Homo sapiens: one gene and its partners. The protein of the gene in region 4 purifies or fractionates together with the protein of the main gene of each other region. This does not show direct contact. Each region holds a gene or a part of one and is shown on either strand. Other genes may lie near its edges. The genes, in order: ANAPC16, INAVA, RFC2, HLTF and PPP2R2C.

Region 1 (4,993 bases), on a different chromosome or scaffold from region 4:
CTTGGACGTTAATAGGGAGCTGCAAATCAGCAAAAGTGTGTTCCACAGGCATATAGTGTGGTGGAGTGAAATGCAGAGGTTCCTTTTTGAAAGTTTAGCTTATATCCTTTTGCTTTGAAGTTCATTACCAAGGAAAATATGCAAATATCACAACTTAACTATTTTATCCTAATGGTGCCTGTGATTAAATGCAAGTGAGAGGTGGCACTTTCAGGAGCTTCCATATACATCTTGGCCTGATCCTTATAGCCTATAATTCCCACTGCCTTGTGTGTAATCCTAAAGTTCAGGATCAAACCATCTGGGAGGTAAACTCTAATTGTCTATGCTTTCCTCTTTCTAAAATAAAATATGAGTTATAATTGGACTTTTTAAGCAAGAATATGAATAGGATAATGACTGCTGACATTCAAACCCCTTTTTTTTTTGAGACTGAGTTTGAATTTACAGAATGTAACACTGTCTCTGAAGAATACAAAAAGTATACATCCCAATAATTATACTTTCATTTTTTTCTTTTTCTCTTTTTTTTTTTTTTTTGATCACTTTGAAGATGATATTGGAAGGATGCCCTCTTGGTTATATATTCAAGCTCTTTGGATACAGTATCTATAGTTGTTTTTTTTTTTAATTGGTTATTGTGACTTCTGAAATAAGGTTTCCTTTGTGTGAAACTCAGCATGAGGCCAGAATGTGTTAGTCCTGTCTGCTTGCCATGTAATACCTGGCCAACACAACAACCCATGATTGATGGGTGAATGCTTGAGGCCTAGTAGTGCTAACGTGAAGTACTGCCTGAAAAAGGACAGCTGTGTCCTCTCTCCCCGTTTGTTTTAGGATTTTCGCAATAAGGTACATCCCCCAAATGGTTTCTGCTACCTTTTTAAAAATCAAATGTTTCTACGTGAGCTGTAAATTTTTGAGAATATGTTTTGCTGTATCAGCCCTTGCCTGACAAGGAATAACATGAACTAGCTTATGTTTCATGATCATCTTCCAAGTGCTGTGGCAACTGAGTTGGCCACTTCTTGTTGGCAGTTCTTGGCACCAGTACAATTCTAGGTTCTGAACTTGCACCATACTCTTATCGTCATCCAAATTGCAGTGTTTTGGTTCAGTTGGAAAATCAAGGTTACAGTTTGCGTTCACAGAATGAAATTTCCCAGCAGTGTTCTGTGATTGTCAGAGTGATGTAATTTGATATATTAAAAATCAACAATTTTTTCCTCAGCTTTGTTTTTTAGACTGAAAATGATTTGGAGTTTTGGTGAACCTTTATATTTTGACACTACAGGAGCCAGCCACAAGGCCAAATGTGTCAGCTGCCAGTGTTTGCTTGACATACAGGAGAACATTAAGGAACTCTCAGGTTGGGAGGAGGGAAGTGTTGACCAGGACATCAGACGGAGGTTTCTTGTTTTTGTTTTTTTAAACACTATTTTTAAACTCTTAAGTAGAGGGACTATTTTAATATTCTAGGTATAGAATAAATAGCTTTTATAACAGTCTTAGTTCTAAATGAAGCAGAACCCGTCTTTGTAAACACTGAGAACTAGACCCTGAATGTACAAGCAGGGAAAAGAATAGACAAGTTTACTTGGTTTATCAGAAGCCATAAAACCTTTAGAGCAGATTAAAACCTTTTCTCCTTTTGTTTGTAGATGGCTCTGAGAGATTCCTCTGCGAATCTGTTTTTAGCTATCAAGTGGCATCCACGCTTAAACAGGTGAAACATGGTAAGCACATGAGTGTTGCGTACTTGACTGTGAGAATAAATTTGCTAGGGGGTGGATGAGGCTGTGACAAAAATCCCCAAACTCAGCAAGGCTATTTTAGTGGACTTCCTAAATTAAAGAACATTCTAGGTCTTAATCTAGTCATAATGTCCACATTGAGGCTTAAGGTTGGGGCCGAGTGCAGTGGCTCACGTTTGTAATCCCAGCACTTTGGGAGGCTGAGGCGGGTGGATCACTTGAGGTCAGGAGTTTGAGACCAGCCTGGCCAACATGGTGAAACTGCATCTCTACAAAGAAAAAATTAGTCAGGCATGGTGGCGCATACCTGTAGTCCCAGCTACTTGGGAGGCTGAGGTGGGAAGATCACTTGAGCCCGGGAGGTTGAGGCTGCAATGAGCCGGAATCACAGCACTGCACTCTAGCCTGTGCAACAGAGACCCTGTCTGAAAAACAAAAAAAGTTGGTCCTCCAGGGAGTCAGTGCTTCCTGCTCCTCTTGTGTTACTTTTTCCTCTCCTGTCTGAAACCTCCTTTTACTGTTGTCCTCCACTGGTTACCATCATCATCTTCAAGTATTTGTACGATACCTCCTGGTCTGTCTATACTCTAACATCCTGATAACACTTTTTCTGTTACATTAGGCCTCACCAGGCCTTCATTTCTGCATCAACAAACTGTGTTCCCCCTCCAGACCATTTCTCCATTGAAACTTTATGTAGGGGGAAAAGCTGTAATTGCCTCTAACCCTAGGATTTTAGTCCACAAATCACTATGGCATAGAGGATGAGTACTTTTTTTAGGAACAGAGCACATCCAGGCCGGGTGCAGTAGCTCATGCCTCTAATCCCAGCACGTTGGGAGGCTGAAGCAGGAAGACTGCTTGAGCCCAGGAGTTCAAGACTGACCTGGGCAACATGGTGAAACCCCATATCTAAAAAAAGAAAATACAAAAATTAGTGGAGAATGGTGGTGCATGCCTGTGGTCCCAGCTACGTGGGAGGCTGAGTTGGGACGATCGCTTCAGCCCAGGAGGCATACTCCAGCCTTGGTGACAGAGTGAGACCCTGTCTCTGGAAAAAAATAGGGCACATCCTGAAAATGTGATCATTTTATTTTAAAATGACTTTTATTTTTTGAGACGGAGTCTCTCACTGTCACCCGGGCTGGAGTGCAATGGCATGATCGCGGCTCACTGCAACCTTTGCCTCCTGGGTTCAAGTGATTCTCCTTCCTCAGCCTCACAAATAGCTGGGACTACAGGTGCACGCCACCACGCCCAGCTAATTTTTGTATTTTTAGTAGAGATGGGGTTTCACCATGTTGGCCAGGATGGTCTTGATCTCTTGACCTTGTGATCCGCCTGCCTTGGCATCCCAAAGTGCTTGGATTACAGGCATGAGCCACTGCGCCCAGCCTTTCTTCTTTTAACATTAGAAGAAACTTCCAACTTAAAAAAAAAAAAATAGGCCGGGCACGGTGGCTCATGCCTATAATCCCAACAATTTGGGAGGCTGACACGGGCGGATCACCTGAGGTCGGGAGTTCGAGACTGGCCTGACCAACATGGAGAAACCCCATCTCTACTAAAAATACAAAATTAGCCAGGCATGGTGGCATATGCCTGTAATTCCAGCTACTCGGGAGGCTGAGGCAGCAGAATCGCTTGGACCCAGGAGACAGAGGTTGCAGTGAGCTGAGATCACACCATTGCACTCCAGCCTGGGCAATAAGGGTGAAACTCTGTCTCAAAAAAAAAAAAAAAAAAAAAAAAAAATTAAGCTTCTGACCAGCATAGAATAAGACCCCATTATGAGAATTTTGAGGGTCGGGCACAGTGGCTCACGTCTGTAATCCCAGCACTTTGGGAGGCTGAGGCAGGCAGATCACCTGAGGTCAGGAGTTCGAGACTAGCCTGGCCAACATGGTGAAACCCCATCTCTACAAAAATAAAAAACTTAGCTGGGCACGATGGCGGGTGCCTGTAGTCCCAGCTACTCAGGAGGCTGAGGCGGGAGAATCACTTGAACCCACGAGGCAGAGGTTTCAGTGAGCCGAGATCGCGCCATTGCACTGCAGCCTGGGCAACAAAGCAAGACTCCATTCCCCACCCCCACCCCACCCCCCAAAAAAAGAGAGAGAATCTTGAGGAGAAAAAAAAATCCATCTAGAAATTTTTTTTTTTTGAGACGGATTCTCACTCTGTCACCAGGCTGGAATGCAGTGGCACGATCTCGGCTCACTGCAACCTCTGCCTCCAGGGTTCAAGCGATTCTCCTGCCTCAGCCTCCCGAGTAGCTGGGACTACAGGCGCATGCCACCACGTCCAGCTAATTTTTTTTGTATTTTTATAGAGATGGGGTTTCACCATATTGGCCAGGATGGTCTCGATCTCTTGACCTCGTGATCCGCCCGCCTCGGCCTCCCAAAGTGCTGGGATTATAGGCGTGATCCACCACACCCGGCCTAGAAATTATTTTTATACCAGTCATCATCTTGGTGGCTGGTGGCAGTCTCTTGGGTAATACGTTGTTGCATAATATTCTTTCCTTGACTCCTTACAGATCAGCAAGTTGCTCGGATGGAAAAACTAGCTGGTTTGGTAGAAGAGCTGGAGGCTGACGAGTGGCGGTTTAAGCCCATCGAGCAGCTGCTGGGATTCACCCCCTCTTCAGGTTGATACTGCCTGGATGGTCACCTCTGGTGCGCAGCAAGTGCAAAGCCAGTGGGGGACTTTCTCACAGCTTACATAGCCATCCAGAGATCCACAGCTACGTCACTGAATTGTTAATGCACATTTGTACTTGGTTTCTCTGTATCTATTCACAGGCAACAAATACTTATATGTGTGATCTTTCAGGGAATGTTTTGTTTATTTGTTTTTAAAAGTATTGGGAATCAGATTAAGACAATCAGTTTCAGAGAACCAGGAGGTTTGGGGTTAAGAGATACTCAAAAATTTTCACAAGCCAAGTAGGGCATATATCAGATTTGGCCAACTGAATGGCGTCTGTCCTGTCATCCATATGGTGCCTGGAAATATTTACCAGTCAAGGTCAAGGTCAGCATCTGTGGTTAAAAATATAGCATTCTGACCTAAAAAAGTTATTTTGCAGATGAATGTGTTTTCAACTCAGGACCTATCCAAATGAGGAATTTTTAAATATTCTTTTTTTTTTCCTATTTTTAGACATCAATTCTATAGATTCTGACTTTTTCTAACCTCTTATAGACATGCCAAATGCTGGCAAAAAGAAGTGC
Region 2 (3,665 bases), on a different chromosome or scaffold from region 4:
TGCGCCCCACGCTGGAAAAAACTGTTTCATAGAGGGGCTGGGCTGAGACCCCCCCACCCCTGAGTGCCTCTTTCAGCTCCCCCATCCCCATCGCAGGCCGATGACCTGGAGCTGAGACCTTTTATTATTTTTTTTTTACACGACTTTTTTCAGAAGCCCTGACCTAAGGATTTATATATGTGGATTGTCCTCAATACCCCTGTGATATGATTATGTTTTATCCCCCAGAGTTTGGCCTACTGGACTTAAGGCCTTGCCTGTCTGACTGACAGCCTCTATCTCCTTATATAAGACAAGTGGCAGGGGACGAGTGAAGCAGAGTGAGCCACCTTGGGAGTTCTCCAACGCTCTGTGCTCTGGTTCTAAGAAATTCCCTGGGGAACTGCCCCTGGCCCTCCTGTCCCACTATTGCTGGAGGCTGGACATGGTACATACTCATGCACATGACTCTCCCCCATTTCCCAGGTCTCTGGGTACCCCAGCCTGGGCTGGGGGAGAATCTCTTCCCCCTTTTCTAATGTGCTCTGTGATGCACACACCAAGTGGTAGGTCAAAGGTCAGTATATCCCGGTGGTGTATTGTCTTGCTAGACCCTGCTATTTTCCTGACCCCCTAAATCCTCTTTAGGGACCCAGTCACTATACCCTGTCTATGCCCTGTGGGCTCCCAGACCCCTGAGCTTTGAGTCAGTGGCATCACAGTTTGTAGCCTCAGGGGGTCTGGCTGGGGGCTGGTCCATGCTTGTGGTTAGTGGACAGCAGCCACCCTTTGACAGCTACCTCTGGGCATCTCAAGGGCTTGCAGCCCCACTGCTCCTTCTAACATTTTGTTTGTTTTTGAGATGGAGTCTCGCTCTGTCGCCCAGGCTGGAATGCTGTAGCAAGATTTCGGCTCACTGCAACCCCCGTCTCCCGGGTTCAAGCGAATCTCCTGCCTCAGCCTTCCGAGTAGCTGGGATTACAGGCAAGCACCACCATGCCTGCTAATTTTTTATTTTTAGTAGAGATGGGGTTTCATCATGTTGGCCAGGCTGGTCTCGAACTCCTGACCTCAAGTGATCCACCTGCCTTGGCCTTTCAAAGTGCTGGGATTACAGGCATGAGCCACCGCACCTGGCCCTTCTAACGTTTTTTCATCATAGTCCCAAAAACCAATACTTTACAAGTGGTTTTGGAAAGGCACCACTTTTGTGGCATGTTCTGGTTGGGAGAGGGAGTCACAGTTCCTACTCCCCCCACCAGCTATGCTTCTGCTCTGAGAAGGTGGTTATTTATACAAACATGGACATACTCACTCCCAAGGGCTGATGAGATGCTGAATTTTCTTTGGGGGCATTCATTAATTGTCCCAGCTGCAGCGACTGGAGCAAGTCTGGAAGCTGCCTGTGCTAAGACCACCCAGCTGTCCCTGGGTTCTCATCCTAGGGCCTTCTTTGCTTCCAGGTCAGGGGACCTGCTTCAATGAGAAAGCAACTGAATTGAGGCTAGGAGAGGTAGGGAGAGCTGAGTTCTGACTTCACCTGTGCAGAACTCTCTGCCCCCATGTTACCTGGACTGGAACAGACTGTGAATATAGCAGAAGGTTCCAAGAACTCTGGTGTCTGACCTAGAAGAGGCACAGTTCTCTCTACTGGAAAGAAAACGATGTAGCCGATTGCACAAGGGTGCCAAGGGAAGACCCAGGATGGCCCATCAAAGGAACCTGGGGGAGGATGCAGGAGGCTGAAGGGATGCACCTGGCATTTCTCTCACTGTGCTCTTACCGCATCAGCAACCCCCAACTTTTGGGCCTACTCTGCCCCCCATGCGTGAATACCCTGCTTGGATGCTGTGCTTTTCCGGTTTGTCTCTAAGCCCCTTTCTCCAGGGCATGTTGGTTTCCCTGGCCTCTCAGTGTCCTAACTGGAGCCCAGAGTGCCTTGTTCTGAGCCAGGAGACGGCTGAGCACTGGCCCTCCACACCTAAGCGTCCTTTACATTAACTTATTGGTCTTGTATAACACCTGGTGCCATTGCCAAGTGGCTGTGTCCTCAGCTACAGAGCTGGAATTGTGTGGGGTTTAGTGCTAAATACTTCAATAAAGTCTGTTTTTTGTGATTGGCTGAGCTGGGGATGAGGGATTTTTTATTTTTATTTATTTTTATTTTTTGGTGTGTGTGTGTGTGTGTGTGTGTGTGTGTGTGCGCGCGCGCGCGCGCCAGGTTTCCCCGAGCAGAGGCTGAGCCCGGCCCCCTGGGCTGCCCGCCAAGGTGGCCAAGTTGCCCGGCCCCTCCAGCTGGTCTGGCCAGGTCCCTGGGGAGCTGGTGTGATGGGTTGGGTGGTAGAGGGAGGCTCTCAGATTCTCTGCTTCCGGGGCAGGGTGGAAGCCAGCACAACCCCTGTCAAGGCTCCTTACAGCCTCTTCAGCTTGAGGAGCTGGCCTGTGGGAGTCACTTCCCCAAGGACAGGGCACTGGCCAGGCAGAGGGTAGAGATGGGTGGCTCAGCGCCTCCAAGCCATTCCTGGAGCTTTGACTGCCCGGAGCCCAGGCTCATGAGAAACAGCCCCTTCCCCATACCTGGAAGACTGGGACCCCTCCTTGGGGTGGTGAGGAGGCGGGGCTCTCCGCAGGCCCCTCCCCCATCGGCAAGAGTGCCCACAGCCCCTCCGCTGCCTGGGGTCCCACTGAGGCCAGGGGCGGGGAGCGCCACCTTGGACACTTCCGTGCTTGCCCTGCAGGGACCGCTCCAGGGCCCCGGAGCACAGCGCCCCCTGGAGAGGCTGTGCCCGGACCTGAGGCGCCGGCGTGTCAGGTAAAGGGGTCCCCCTTCCCGCCAGTTCCCTCCACAGCCAAGGAAGGGGCGGGGAAGGGCCCCGGCCCTCGCTGCCCAAGGGGCGCCTCCAGCCTTGCCTGGGTGCGGCCCTGGGGGCCGCGGGGATCTGTGGGCCTCAGGGGTCTGGGGCACTCCATTCTTGGGGAAGGTAGGGGAGGGGAGACGGCTCCAGGGTCTCTGGAGAAGTTGTGGGGTATCCTGATCTCAGACCTGAGCGCTTCGACCTATTATTTGTGGGGAATGGGGCGCTGGATTCTGTATTTTAGACGATGGTGAGTTAGGCCCGGGGAAAACAGGGTGAGCAAGTTCCCAGGGGATGACCTGTCCAAGGGGCAGCTCCCAACAACAGGACAGAGACCAGCTAAGAGGGGGGATACAAAAGAGACGGACACAGGGGCAGAGCAAGGCCCTTTAAGGCAGTGAGCGATGGGACGCGCCCGTTTGGGGACCCGAAGTGCAGGGCGGTGAGAGAACCAGGTTGCACAGCAGTTTCTTCCTGGTCCACCAGCAGGCTTCCCTGGGCCATGTCTGGGAGGGGCAGACATGTGGGGGCTCTTAGCTCCCCTACCATAGGGCAGAAGTAAGGTTATGAATTAGGGGGTGGGGACAGAAGCCTCTGGGAAGAGGGGACCTCGGGATTTTAGCAGCAAGACTCCCAGAGGCAATTTGGCCTGGAGGCAGAGGGATGGCCACTGTGACCTAGGAGCCCACCTGTGAGTCTGAGATTCTCTATGCTGGAAGATCCCAGAATGGAAGACTACTAGGCAAATCAGGAGGGACCAGGGCCCTTCAGAGGGTCCCGAATCTTCCCATGGGGAAGAAATGGGAAGCTGACCCTGGAACCCGGCACTGG
Region 3 (4,993 bases), on a different chromosome or scaffold from region 4:
CCAGCTTTTTCTTGTGGAGACGGGATCTCACTATGTTGCCCAGTCTGGTCTCGAACTCCGGGACTCAAGCGATCCTCCTTGCATCAGCCTCCCAAAGTGCTTGGATTACAGACGTGAGCCACTACACTGGGATGTTCAACCAGTAAATATAATGCAAAATTCCAAAATGTGAAAAAAAAACCCAGATCTGAAATATTTCTGGTCCCAAGCATTAGGGATAAGGGATACTCAGCCTGTATATTTAAAGTGTATGGAAGGCCGGCCAGGCATGGTGGTTCATGCCTATAATCCCAGCACTTTGGGAGGCTGAGGCAGGTGGATCGCTTGAGTCCAGGAGTTTGAGACCAGCCTAGGTGACATAATGAAACCCCATCTCTGTATAAAAGTAAAAATAAAGTGTTCTGGAGGATGTGTATAAGTTAATATGCAAATACTATACCATTTCATATAAGGGACTTGAGCAAAAGTGAATTTTGGTGTCTGAGGAAGGGCCTAGCACCAGTCCCCAGGAACACCAAGGGACAGCTGCATATTGTTCACTCCTTGATTCTTCAGTTAGGGAAAATGTCTGGAGGATATTGGCATCTGAAGATTCATAGTCTGAGATTTTGCTTATTGATCAATTTCACCATCAGTAGCATTTAGAATGTTGCTATTGGTGTCTCTGCAGTTCTGTACTGTTCTGTTCTGTTCTTTTCTTTCTTTCTTTTTTTTTGAGACAGAGTCTTGCTCTGTCACCCAGGCTGGAGTGCAGTGGCACGATCTCGACTCACCATAACCTCTGCCTTCTGGGTTCAAGCGATTCTCGTGCCTCAGCCTCCCAAGTAGCCGGGACTACAGGCGTGCGCGGGCACGCCCAGGTAATTTTTGTATTTTTAGTAAAGATGGATTTTCGCCGTGTTGGCCAGGTTGATCTTAAACTGGCCTGGAGTGGTCCGCCCACCTTGGCCTCCTAAAGTGTTGGGATTACAGGTGTGAGCCACCATGCTTGGCCTACATTGCAGTTATTTTCTGATTCACCTAATAATTAGGAAGAGTCCTCCTCTCAATTTTTTTCTCTTTCCTGTTGTGGGTAGAGAATGAAAAATTTTGAATTCTTGGCTGTGGTTAGTGAAAGCTTACAAGATAACAAAGGTGGTATATCTGCACTTCTATTACATCTTTTGAAAGATAATATGGTATCTCAAGCAATGCAGTTAAAAAACTGAAGGATGAGGCTTTTTTTTTTTTTTGAGACGAATTATCGCCAGGCTGGGGTGCAGTGGCGTGATCCCGGCTCACTGAACCTGGGAGGCAGAGCTTGCAGTGAGCCAAGAGGGCCACTGCACTCCAGCCTGGATGACACAGCGAGACCCTGTCTGAAGAAAAAAAAAAAAAAAGTGTATATTTTCTTTGTTCTTTGAAAGACCTCCAAGAAAGAACAAATGCCATAAAATCTCAATCCTTATAAATAGTTACAATTGCCCCCCAAAAAAACTCAAAAATGGAAATTGGGCCTCACAGTCCCTGATATACCGATTGTTTAAAAGTCCTTGTGAAGGCAACTGAATTGGTCTCAGAAGGTGCCAGTAAAAACCTGTCATTCTTTCAGGGGCATTGACGTTGTGAGGAATAAAATTAAAATGTTTGCTCAACAAAAAGTCACTCTTCCCAAAGGCCGACATAAGATCATCATTCTGGATGAAGCAGACAGGTAGAGTGCTTTGCCAAATGTATTTTGACCTTGATCTCTAAATCTCTTTTTCGGTTTTATTCAATCAGGATAAAAAGCACTTTTATGGTAGATTTGCTTATCATATCTTCCACAAGCAATTTAATAGGGGCCTGCACCTTAAATCTTATCTTTATTAAGTAACTTACAAACATTTGTCTAAGATAGTCATTCATTTAATGTGCTGGTTTCAGCATCTCTTACGTTAATAATTTAAATGAGGGTTTTTGTTTTTTTTTTTTTTTGAGATGGAGTTTCTCTCTGTCACTCAGGCTGGAGTATAGTGGTGTGATCTCTGCTCACTGCAACCTCCGCCTCCCGGGTTCAGGCGGTTCCCTGGCCTCAGCCTCCCAAGTATCTGGGACTACAGGCATCTGCCGCCACACCCGGCTAATTTTTGTATTTGTATTTGTATTTGTATTTGTATTTATTTATTTATTTTTTTTTTGAGACAGAGTCTCGCTCTGTCTCCCAGGCTGGAGTGCAGTGGTGCGATTTCAGCTCACTGCAACCTCCGCCTCCTGGGTTCACGTGATTCTCCTGCCTCAGCCTCCCGAGTAGCTGAGACTACAGGCATGCACCACCACGCCCAGCTGATTTTTTGTATTTTTAGTAGAGAAGGGGTTTCACCATGTTAGCCAGGGTGGTCTCAATCTCCTGACCTCGTGATCCGCCCGCCTCAGCCTCCCAAAGTGCTGGGATTACAGGCATGAGCCACCGAGCCTGGCCTAATTTTTGTATTTTTAGTAGAGATGGGGTTTCGCCATGTTGGCCAGGCTGGTCTCGAACTCCTGACTTCAGGTGATCTACCCGCCTCGGCCTCCCAAAATGCTGGGATTATAGGTGTGAGCCACTGTGCCTGGCCTGTAAATTTTTTTATTGTGGTTAAATGGACATAATTAACCATAAATTTTTTTTTTTTTTTTTTTGTGAGACGGAGTCTTGCTCTGTCGCCCAGGCTGGAGTGCAGTGGCGCAATCTTGGCTCACTGCAAGCTCCACCTTCTGGGTTCACGCCATTCTTCTGCCTCAGCCTCTCGAGTAGCTGGGACTACAGGCGCCCTCCACCACGCCCAGCTAATTTTTTTGTATTTTTAGTAGAGACGGGGTTTCACTGTGTTAGCCAGGATGGTCTTGATCTCCTGGCCTCATGATCCGCCCGCCTCGGCCTCCCAAAGTGCTGGGATTATAGGTGTGAGCCACTGCGCCCGGCCCAAAATTTACCATTTTAACTATTTTGAAGTATACAGTTCAGTGGCATTTAGTACATTTGCAATGTTGTGCAACCATCACAACACTTCGGTTGGTATAAATGAAGAATCTGAGTCCAGGCTCGGTGGCTCATGCCTGTAATCCCAGCACTTTGGGAGGCCGAGGCAGGCGGATCACCTGAGGTCGGGAGATGGAGACCAACATGGAGAAACTTCGTCTCTACTAAAAATACAAAATTAGCCAGGTGTGGTGGCACATACCTGTAATCCCAGCTACTTGGGAGGCTGAGGCAGGAGAATTGCTTGAACCCCGGAGGCGAAGGTTGTGGTGAGCTGAGATCATGCCATTTGCACTGCAACCTGGGCAACAAGAGCGAAACTCCATCTCAAAAAAAAAAAAAAAATTGAAATGACATTAAGAAAAGAATATAGAACCCTAACCCTATAACGTTGTTTTTTGTTGTAGTTTTTGAGACAGGGTCTCACTATATCACTCAGACTAGAGTCCAATGGCACAGTCATAGCTCACTGCAACCTTGAACTCCTCGGCTGTAATGATCCTCCACCTCAGCCTCCCAAGTAGCGGAGACTACAGGCTTGTGCAACTGCAACCAGCTATTTTTTTTTTCACAGGGGCAGGATCTCACTATGTTACCCAGGCTGGTCTCAAACTCCTGGCCTCAAGTGATCTGTCTGCCTCGGCCTCCCAAAGTGCTAGGATTGCAGGCATGAGGTGCTGTGCCTGGCGAAATAAATTTTTTTTAGGGCCAGGTGCGGTGGCTCACACCTGTAATCCCAGCACTTTGGGAGGCCGAGGCGGGCAGATTGCTTGAGGTCAGGAGTTCGAAACCAGCCTGGCCAACGTGGAAACCCCGTCTCTACTAAAAGTATAAAAATTAGCCGGACATGGTGGCGCCCAGGCTGGAATGCAATGGTGCTTGTAATCCCAGGTACTAAGGAGTCCAAGGCAGGAGAATCGCTTGTACCCGGGAGACAGAGGTTGCAGTGAACTGAGATGGTGCCAGTGCACACCAGCCTGGGCAACAGAGCAAGACTCTGTTTCAAAAAAAAAATTTTTTTTTTTTAATGTGGCAGTAATTCATGTTCTTTGAAGAAAATTTAGAATATATTAATAGTTTGCTGCCTTTTTATTTATTTATTTTTTTGAGGTGGAGCCTCACTCTGTTGCCCAGGCTGGAGTGCAGTGGCATGATCTTGGCTCACTGCAACCTCTGCCTCCTGGATTCAAGTGATTCTCCTGCCTCAGCCTCACGAGTAGCTGGGACTACAGACGTGCGCCACCACGCCCAGACAATTTTTTTTTTTTTTTTTTTTTTGTATTTTTAGTAGAGTTGACGTTTTGCTGTGTTGGCCAGGCTGGTCTTGAACTCCTGACCTCAAGAGAGCCACCTGCCTCGGCCTCCCAATGTGCTGGGATTACAGGCATGAGCCACTATGCCTGGCCATTAATAACTTGCTTTTTTTCTTCTCTTTTTATATACTATCAATGTTTACACAGTTGAGATCATAATATATATAATTTTTGTATCCTGGTTTTTCCTTTTAATGTTGTAGGCATTGCTCTACATTATGATAATCTGGTAAACAGGCTTTTTTGTATTTTTTAAAATTTTTTGTAGAAATAGAGGTCTTACTTTGTTGCCCAGGCTGGTCTCGAACTCCTGGTCTCAAGCGGTCCTCCCGCATCAGCCTTTTGAGATGGGAGGATTGCTTGAGCCCAGGAGTTCGAGGCTGCAGTGAGCTATGATTCCACCATTGCACTGCAGCCTGGGTGACAGCAAGAACCTGTCTCTTTAAGAAAAAAAAAAGAATAAAAAAGGAAGAAAGAAAAGTTGGCAGCTGGTGTCATGATTGTTCTCCTGAATTTGTGTCATGAAGGACTGGAGAGAACCAATTCCCACAAGTGTGATGGCAGCCCTTGTAGATCGTGGTTTTCGTGAGTTTCACTTGAGGGTTGTTCTGATGCTGTAGGTACTAAATGCTGTTTGCACAGTCTTTGAGAGAGCGGCCTGCAGGTGTTAGCATTAGAGGGATGGCCTGCGTACTTCCAA
Region 4 (3,946 bases):
ACTCATCCATGTTCTTGTTAGGCCTGGAATCCTGCTGCTGAAGATCAGTGCTTTGACAGATGCCATAGACTTGGTCAGAAGCAAGAAGTTATCATCACAAAAGTGAGTTTTTAAACAAACTATTTTAAGACTAGGTTGATACGATTTTTACAATTAAGCAAGTAATGCATGAATATATTATTATGATTGAGTGTAATTATGCAGAGCAAAATATAAGTCACCTTTTTCCTCCTTCATCAATAATTTAATATATGCTGTTTAAGGGGCCTTTCTCTGCACCTACATTTATAGTTATGTGTACATCTCCTTAAAAACATTCTTTTAAAGATAAATGGAATTATACTTTATTCTACAACATATTTGTTTCCCTTAAAACTATACATTGGAGACTACCTCATAAGTACATTTAGATGAACACTTTTTTTAAATAGTGGTAAAATACAAAATTTACCATTTTGAAGTATACAGTTTAGATGCATTAAGTACATTCATGTTGTTGTGCAACAGCCATCACAATCATCCATCTCCAGAACTTTTTCATCATCTTAAACTGAAACTGTGTATCCATTAAATAATAACTTCCCATTCCTCTCCCCCCAGCCCCTGGCAACTACCATTCTACTTTCTTTCTCTGAATTTGACTACTCTACAAAACCATATAGATATATCGTAATATATTTAACCCATTAAGTTTTTTGCTAATAAAAACAGTGCCATAATGAGCATTATTATATATAAATCTTTTCACATAGATGCAAGTAATTCTTTGGGATAAGTTAAGAAAACTAGAATTCTGGATTTAGAATTTTTATCAACTATCGAGTTGGTTTCAAAATAGGATTTATATGAAAATTGTTAATTTATGCTTCTGTGGCCAAAAAAGTGCTGTTCTAATTTGCATTTACCTAAAACCTTGAGTATATTTCACATATCTTGTTTATTAACATTTTTTCTGTGAATTATTTATATCTTCTGTCCAGTTCTCATAGTTATGGTACAAATAGTTTTATAGTATAAAGGACTCCCTGATACAGTCTGACTTGAAATCTTTTGTTTATGTATGTTGAAAATGGTTTATCCCATACTCTTCCTTGTCTTTAAACTGCATTTTTTTGGTCATGAAAAAGCTTTAAAATTTTTATGATTTAAAACGTCAGCCTTTTTTATACGTTCTAGGTTTTAAGGTCTTACCTAGGACAGAAGGCTTTATTTTCACATTTTTTCAACTATTCTGTATTTACTTCTGGTTCTTTTGGAAGATTTTATTTTTTGTTTTATGATTTGTGACATGAGTCTAAGCTTATTATTTTATCAGATGAAGAACGATTTGTTCTGTCACATCATTTTTTTTCTTTGAAAATTCCAACTTTTTCCCTACTAGTATGAAATGTCACTTTCATCATAAACTAATTTATATATATTACTTGGGTCTTTTTCTAGACTATTCTGTTCCATTGATCTCTTTTCCTTTTCTTAGGGCAGTATTACTCTTATAACAACTATGGTTTCCTAAAGTAAGTTTTGATACCTGATAGGGTAAAATGTTCTGATGACCCTTTTTGAAAATTGTATTGGTGGTTATTATTATTGCTCTTGAATTGAACTTTAGATTTTAGTTATAAAATCCCATTTAAGATATCTTGAGATTTATTGAATTTATTATTACTTTCGAGAACTATCTTTCTTTATAAGTAACGAATGTTTCCATACAGGAACATAGTATCCTTTCTCCATTTATGTAGATCTTATATGTATTTCAGTAAAATTTTATTATATAGCTTTAGTTATTGCAGTAATTGGGTCTTCTTAAACAATGTTAAATAGTAGCAGATAGTGACCATTCTTGACTTGTTTCTGTTTTGTTGTAGAATACTTTTATTGTTTCACATTAAATATGTAAGGTTGAGACATTCATTCCTAGTTGGGGTATTTTAAAATCAAGTTTTTATCAGGAATGAGATGATCACGTTTTATTTTTCTCTTTGTTAGTGTTGTGAATTATACTAAAGATTCATTCTTGAATTTCTGGGAATAGTTTTTTGTTTTTTTTTTTTTTTTTTTTGAGACGTCGCTCTGTCACCCAGGCTGGAGTGCAGTGGCGCAATGTCGGCTTACTGCAAGCTCCGCCTCCCGGGTTCACACCATTCTCCTGCCTCAGCCTCCCGAGTAGCTGGGACTACAGGCGCCCACCACCATGCCCGGCTAACTTTTTCTATTTTTTAGTAGAGATGGCATTTCACCGTGTTAGCCAGGATGGTCTCGATCTCCTGACCTCATGATCTGCCCGCCTCGGCCTCCCAAAGTGCTGGGATTACAGGTGTGAGCCACCGTGCCCGGCCAGAATGGCCTTTTTAATACAATGCTGAAGTCATTTTGCCAGAGTTGCCTATATAGTTTGCTTTTTTTTTCTTTATTGCTTTGCTTATCTTGTGATCTGTAACTTCTATTCGTACAGCCATATTCTTTATATAAGAAAACCATATTGGGTAAGGAAAGCAAAGTTCAGTTCTATTAAATAGTTATTATAGTTTGGTGCAAAAGTAATTGCGGTTTTTGCCATTAGGCAAATCTTTCATTTAGTTTTTTTAATAAAGATTTTAAATACTATGCCTTAAAAACTACTTAACTTTTTTTTTTCTTTTTAAAGTTCATTGTAAAGGACTCTGTTGAAGAAAATATGCTGAAAATACAAAACAAAAAGAGAGAACTTGCAGCAGGAGCCTTTGGAACTAAAAAACCAAATGCTGACGAAATGAAACAAGCCAAAATTAATGAAATCAGAACATTAATTGACTTATAATTTGTGGGATTTTAGTAAGGTCAGTTTGATTGGATACTTAAGTTTTAGAAATGAGAAAAATACAGAGTTTTAGAAATGAGATCTAGAGAACACGTCTTCTAAAAGGGGCATATTTTATATTAGTGAAGAGGTATTACTGACACAATTTCTTCTATATATGAACCTATTTTTAATGAAACTTCAAATAGCAATAAGTTCCGTTATATACTGTGGCCTGAAATAATTTGAGAAAAAAGGTTACTTTGTTATTCAGCTTTTCATAATATCTATGCTGAGTATTTTCACGTATCTTCCAAGTACTCAGCTTTTTCGTATTTCAAATAAGGTCAGACCTTTTATACTTTTGACCAAATAGTTATTTTCTATGTTGGACACTTAGTTATTTACCAAAGCCTCCGATTTGTGATGCAGTGTTTGTAGTCCTTGTAAACAATATATACAGACTATACAAGAATTAATTTTATTGGGCTTTCAAAAACCATATTTGCATTCCAGAACCAAATCTTAAATGAGACCAAAGTCCAGGTTAGCACAGGTTTTTATTTTTCCTACAGCTACATTGAGATATAGTTCACATAAATGACTTGGAGTTTTATGTTCATGAAAAAATTAGGGATTATGTTAAGAGTACTATTTTTTCCATTTTAGTTAAGTAGTACTACACTCATTGTTTAAATGTAACTTGCTGTGTCTGAGGTATAAATATAGTCTGTGGGAGTGAGAGGCAAACCAGTCCTACCCAATTTGATTTGAATATTTTAAATTATGGAACTGCTAAATAGATATTTCTATAAATAGATAATTTTTATTTATGTAGCTTTTTTTGGAAGTAACTTTATAAATTTTTATAATTCAGAAGACTACTATATGTGAGAGGCGTGATATCTGGATGGAAGTTGGGCTGGATGATCTCCAAAGTCGTTTCAACTCTTAAAGACATCTTAATCCTGAATGTAAACAATTGTTATGTGTTTAGAATCAGAATTTGATTTTGAACTTGAGTAATTCATCCTTACAGCTATCTGTAGAATTAGTCATCTTTTTTCTTTTCTTTTTTTTTTACTTTTTTGTTAATAAGCAAACTTATTTGCTGCAGAATTTGGGTTGACTCCTGAGCATATTTAAAACAAAGAAGCTAGAAATTTA
Region 5 (4,993 bases), on a different chromosome or scaffold from region 4:
AGAGGTAGGTCTAACTTCTAGCTTGTAAAATAAGATAACTGTTGGCCTCTCCCCTGTAGAGCAACCTGGAAGTCAGAGGCCCATGGACCCAATGGGTGAGAGAGGAGCACGGACATTTAATATTGTAACCCCTCCCCATAGGGAAGAGCTGCCCAATGGATGGCAGGCTCTCACCATTTCCACCAATCACGAAAGCCAAGGAGGTAGAAGGCAGGGCCAAGGAGTTCACCCTACCCAGAGTTCCAGCAGAGCAGGGCCAACCCTATAATTCGTGGGGCACAGGGAAAAATGAAAATGCAGAGCCTCTTATTCAAAAAGCAAAGGAAAAGCATCATTAAAGGTGCTAAGATACAAAACCTTTTCATGCCTTCCATATTTTGTCATGGTGTTATTTGCTATTTAATGTCAATTCAAATTTAAAAAAAAAAAAGCTTAAACTCTTAGCGTGCATTTTATCACTCACCATTCTAGTGTGCACCTCCAATTTTAAATGCAAACATAAGAGCACGTAACTGGAATGTAGACTCACCAAAATGCACAAGTTATATTTCGCATATGGATTTTGTTCTTACCAGAGCAGAGGAAACTAACTTAACTGTTCTTATTTCATTTCTGGATATGTGTACATTCTTCCAACACCCTCTACCCTTGGTTCAATAATAAACAAGGAAGGACTAGGAGGAAAAGGAACTATAGGTGCCCTCTTTTTCCCTTCCCTTCTGTGTAATCATTTTCAGTGTCAGCGATTGGCAAATATGGGCACGTAACACACGTTAAGAAAGGACACCATAGGGTTCCTGCGTCATTCATGTTTCTTAGAAGTCACTGCATGAGAACATCAATGCCTTGGAGCATTATTTGAAAGCATGGCCCCTGCCTGTGAAACTACAGACGCACTGAGAAGGTGCATGAGCTGTCCACTGTGCATGGGGCTCAGACGCTCAAGTGAACACAGGGTAGCGTGCTGTGGGAGCCAATATGTGTAACCACAGACTCGCCTGCCACACGTACCCCTCTGCTCATTCCCAGGCTCCCCCGTCCCATCAGATTTCGCTTACAAAACACAGGATCCAAAGTGAAATTCTTAAAAATTTCAAGATAGTAACAGCAGAACATGAACCCAAGCACAGGTCCTTCTGAGTGTGGGGACCTAGATGACCACACAGGTTGCATATCCATGAAGCCAGCCCTGGAGCAAAGCCCTGGAAAATTCCTATAATCTCATGCCAAACTAGAAAAGTAGCCTTCAAAATTGTTGATACAGACAGATTACAGTTTTCATTAAAAACAGACATGGGCATTAAAAAAAGACTGGAAGGAAATACCCCAGTTGCTGAGAGTATGTCCCTCTGCTTGGTGGACTCACAGGAGTTCACTCTCCTTCTCTTACTCCCCATCACACTCTCCATGGAGCCTAGCGCTTCATACAGCGGCTCTTCCAGTCTCAAGGCCTAAACACTTCTTACCAAACATCCCTTAGCTCTGCAAGCTTTAAGGATAAACACTAAAAAGTGTAGCAAATGACAACAGTCAGGAGATGGAGTGGAAAAATTTTATTAGAATTTGATTTTCATCTTCCAGAAAGAAAATGAGAAAAACCGTGCTCTGTGACTGCGCCAAGCTTTAAGTTCGGGTTGATTAAAAAGAAAGGAGCACATTGCTTACAGCAGGGGCGTGGGAGTTGGCCTACACTACAATTTGGGGAAATTGACAGCAGTCGCCTTTTACACGTGTAGAACTTCAGAGTCCACATGCCCTTGGCTCCTTACAGCCTCATGACAACCCAGGGCACCAGGCAGTGCAGGGAAACTGAGGCTCAGAAAGTGATGTGATTTGATGGAGGGCACCCCAGCACTGAAATGGAGCCCACACTCGCTGTGAAGCCCAAGGGAAGCTTATGTAAGTGGCGTTTCCAAACAGAAGCGAAAGGAACACAGAATCTGAACAGTCCACATCTTGATTTTCAAAAGTCAAAGGCTGACTCTCCCTAATCTCCCTCTGTGCCACCACTAATGTCCCCCCTCTTAGCCTCAGTTTCCCCATAGGTTGGGGTGGAAGTTAGGCTAGCCAGTCTGATGACAGTTCTAAGGGCTAGTCTAACTCTGGCCCCTAAAGAATAGACATCATCACTTACTGATCTATTAAGAATAAACTGAGGCTCAGAGAGACCGTGTGACCTGCCCAATATTACAGACCCAGGGTCAGACCCCACCAGGAACCCAGATCTCCCGATGCCAGATCTCAGGCTCTCTTATCTGACCAAAAATACCTCCTCAATAGGACTGAGGAGGGAAAACCAGAAATTGGCAACCTTGACTTGAGTGAAATGAAAGAGGGTTCTCAAAACAGAAAGCAAACAAAAATCCCTCTGGGTTTTATGTATCTCGAGTCTTAGCTGTGGGTTACAGATCAGCCTCCTGGTTTTCTTGATAAGCAGTCAGGGCTGTACGAGTTGGGGTGCTATGGGCTGCAAGTAACGGAGACTTGAAAGTGCACAACGAAAAGGAAAAGTAACAGCTCATGTAACTGGAAGTTCAGAGGCGGCCTGGACATCAGGCCTCTATGTCCTGGATCTCACTCACTCTCTGCCCTGCCATCAACGGTGGTGGCCTAAGACTTGCTCCCCTCATGGTGTCAGATGGCTGCCAGCCACCACAAGGTTTCCCTGTTCCCATCACAAGAGAGGGACCAACTACCTGTGGTTCTCCCTACTTTCCACTCAACCTCCAGAACTGACTCCCACATCCATTCTGGAACCAGTCACTGCAAGGGGAATGAGATCATCCTTGCACTGATCACATCCAGCTATGGCCTGAGATCTCTTACTAGGAACCATATGTGTTCTCCTTGGAAGAAGAGAGACTAACTGTTGTGGAGATCAGCTGCAACGTCCACCATAAGGGTGCAGATTTCACTGAATGCTGAGTCTCCCACAAGCAGCATCCCCTCTTCAGTGTGGTTTCCTGGGCAGAAAGTAGATGGTATCCAGGGCACAACCAGTTCAAAACCTGCAGACAATTCCATGCAGGAAAACCTGCCTGCCTGCTGCGTTCAGACAGCCTCAGGACCCCATGATGACCTTAGCAATTCCCAAGCATCCTTCACTTCCTCAACTATAAAATCAGGACAACTCTGTGGGAATAAACAGACTACTCTGAAATCACACAGGACATCCAGGGATGGGAGTTAGGAAAACATGGGTACATCCTTTATGCAGATGCAAAAAGCATGAGTGTCCAACAGTGTGTGATGGCTGAGATGCTCAAACAAGGGGAAGCTGTGCCTCTGGCCTCAGCTGAAAAGTGTGCTCCGGAAGTGCCTTACCTGTCAGGCACATGAGAGTGACTGTTGCTCCCCAGAAAGACCCAGTCACTGCCAGGATCTACCTGGTCAGCCTGAACCACCTCCCCTTGGCTGAGCTCCTGTGTCTTGGTCATCACTGCTGCCCAGGGCAGGATGTGCTTGGCAAATGGTGCTAAGCAAAGGAAGGATGGATGGGTTTTGTAAGTTCAGTCTAGTCTGGAAGTGCTTATTCAACTCACTCTAAAGCTAAGTACTGAGGCCTGCCGCAAAAAGAGAAAGAACAGAGCCAGGAAGAGTCCTTCCTGGAACCATATCCAGCTCTTGAGAAATGTCTAACTAGATGGAGACTTCCTAGCACCCTCCAGGGTCCAGGGCCCAGGGCCCAGTGCCCTATCAGCTGCACTGCTCTCCCCACACCCTGACCCCATTCATGCAAAGTTCTCTGTGCCCCCAGGTGGCCTGCAGGTACACCTAATCATCACCATAACCCTCAATGCAGTTGAGCCCAGCCAAGAGTAAGCCACCCAGCCCTGCCACCAAAAAAAAAAAAAAAAAAAAAAAAAAAAATCCAACCTGCTCTGACGAATTCACACCAAGATGTGAATGACTAACAAAACCTAAACTCTTCCTAAGATGTTTGAGATTTTACAAGAGACTCAGGAACCCAAGCAGGGCTCCCACGGGCAAAGATGACATTGGACATGGGGCCCAAAGGATGAGAAAGAGTCAGTGGTGAGAAAGGCAGGAGGTGGGTATTCCAGGCAACAGCCATTGCAAACGCCCTGAAGCAAGAAAGAAAATGGCCTGCTCAAGGAACAGGAGGTAGATCAGAGCAGCTGGGGTGTGGTGGGGGAGTGTAGACTCAACCACAGGTAGAACAGGAGTTTGTGCACCTGGTTCTTCCGCAAACTGAATTTTAGCATCCACTGTTTGCCCACAGGCTCTTCCAGTTACAAGGCATATAAATAATAACAATGCCATGTGTTCAATGCCTCCAACAACCCAAGCACTGTGCTGGGCACTTTTGATATTAGCAAAATCACTGATCATCCCAGCAACCCTGTATGAAAGGTCGTTATTATTTCTCCCTTTACAAAGGGAAAGTGAAGCTCAGGAAGGTGTAGTAACTTGTCCAAGGCTGCACAGCAGTCAGGAGTCAGAGGCAGGACTTTAACATGATTCAAGTCTGACATTCTGACATTCAAATCTGTGACCTTCCCTGTGCTCTGAGCATGAAATATAGTCAGGATGCAACAGTGTGAAAGTGTGTTTTTCATTAGGGAGGCCAGAATTCTACCTATTATAATGATTATTATTGTTTCTTGTTCCGATCCTGCTCTCTGCATCCGCAGCACCTGAGCCCTATGCCCTGCACACACTGGCACTCGGTCTGGACCAGGCACAAGGCCAGGCCTTGGTTTGTTCATCTCAAGGTGGGGATAAGGCGTAGGTGAGCCTTCGTATGAGGTCCCAGCACACAGCAGGTGCTCAGCATCCTTTGGCTGCACGTTAGCAATGCATAGCTCTGAACGGCTCCTTCAACACCGTTGCACCTGCTCCTCACAGAAACCTCCAGACCCTGTAGGCAGGATTCACTCCCATTTTACAGATGGGGAGACTGAGCCCTGGTGAGAAGACAGACCTCAAGGTCATATAGCTCCCTGATAGAATTCAGGCCGCACAAGGGCAG

The links.
Region 1: the proteins of HLTF (region 4) and ANAPC16 purify together in Homo sapiens (affinity purification with mass spectrometry; one large-scale study listed by BioGRID and IntAct). This does not show direct contact.
Region 2: the proteins of HLTF (region 4) and INAVA fractionate together in Homo sapiens (co-fractionation; one large-scale study listed by BioGRID). This does not show direct contact.
Region 3: the proteins of HLTF (region 4) and RFC2 purify together in Homo sapiens (affinity purification with mass spectrometry, with the first as the bait; one large-scale study listed by BioGRID). This does not show direct contact.
Region 5: the proteins of HLTF (region 4) and PPP2R2C purify together in Homo sapiens (co-immunoprecipitation; one large-scale study listed by IntAct). This does not show direct contact.

What each region holds. Positions count from the first base shown.
Region 1 is NC_000010.11:72,228,705-72,233,697, forward strand, and holds part of ANAPC16 (anaphase-promoting complex subunit 16), read left to right. Parts: intron 1-1,661; coding exon 1,662-1,736; intron 1,737-4,296; coding exon 4,297-4,412; 3' UTR 4,413-4,993. UniProt on the Homo sapiens protein: Component of the anaphase promoting complex/cyclosome (APC/C), a cell cycle-regulated E3 ubiquitin ligase that controls progression through mitosis and the G1 phase of the cell cycle.
Region 2 is NC_000001.11:200,913,633-200,917,297, forward strand, and holds the end of INAVA (innate immunity activator protein), read left to right. Parts: 3' UTR 1-2,110; downstream 2,111-3,665. UniProt on the Homo sapiens protein: Expressed in peripheral macrophages and intestinal myeloid-derived cells, is required for optimal PRR (pattern recognition receptor)-induced signaling, cytokine secretion, and bacterial clearance.
Region 3 is NC_000007.14:74,243,362-74,248,354, reverse strand, and holds part of RFC2 (replication factor C subunit 2), read left to right. Parts: intron 1-1,591; coding exon 1,592-1,693; intron 1,694-4,993.
Region 4 is NC_000003.12:149,031,074-149,035,019, reverse strand, and holds part of HLTF (helicase-like transcription factor), read left to right. Parts: intron 1-21; coding exon 22-102; intron 103-2,647; coding exon 2,648-2,800; 3' UTR 2,801-3,946. UniProt on the Homo sapiens protein: Has both helicase and E3 ubiquitin ligase activities. Possesses intrinsic ATP-dependent nucleosome-remodeling activity; This activity may be required for transcriptional activation or repression of specific target promoters.
Region 5 is NC_000004.12:6,465,237-6,470,229, forward strand, and holds part of PPP2R2C (protein phosphatase 2, regulatory subunit B, gamma), read right to left. Parts: intron 1-4,993. UniProt on the Homo sapiens protein: The B regulatory subunit might modulate substrate selectivity and catalytic activity, and might also direct the localization of the catalytic enzyme to a particular subcellular compartment.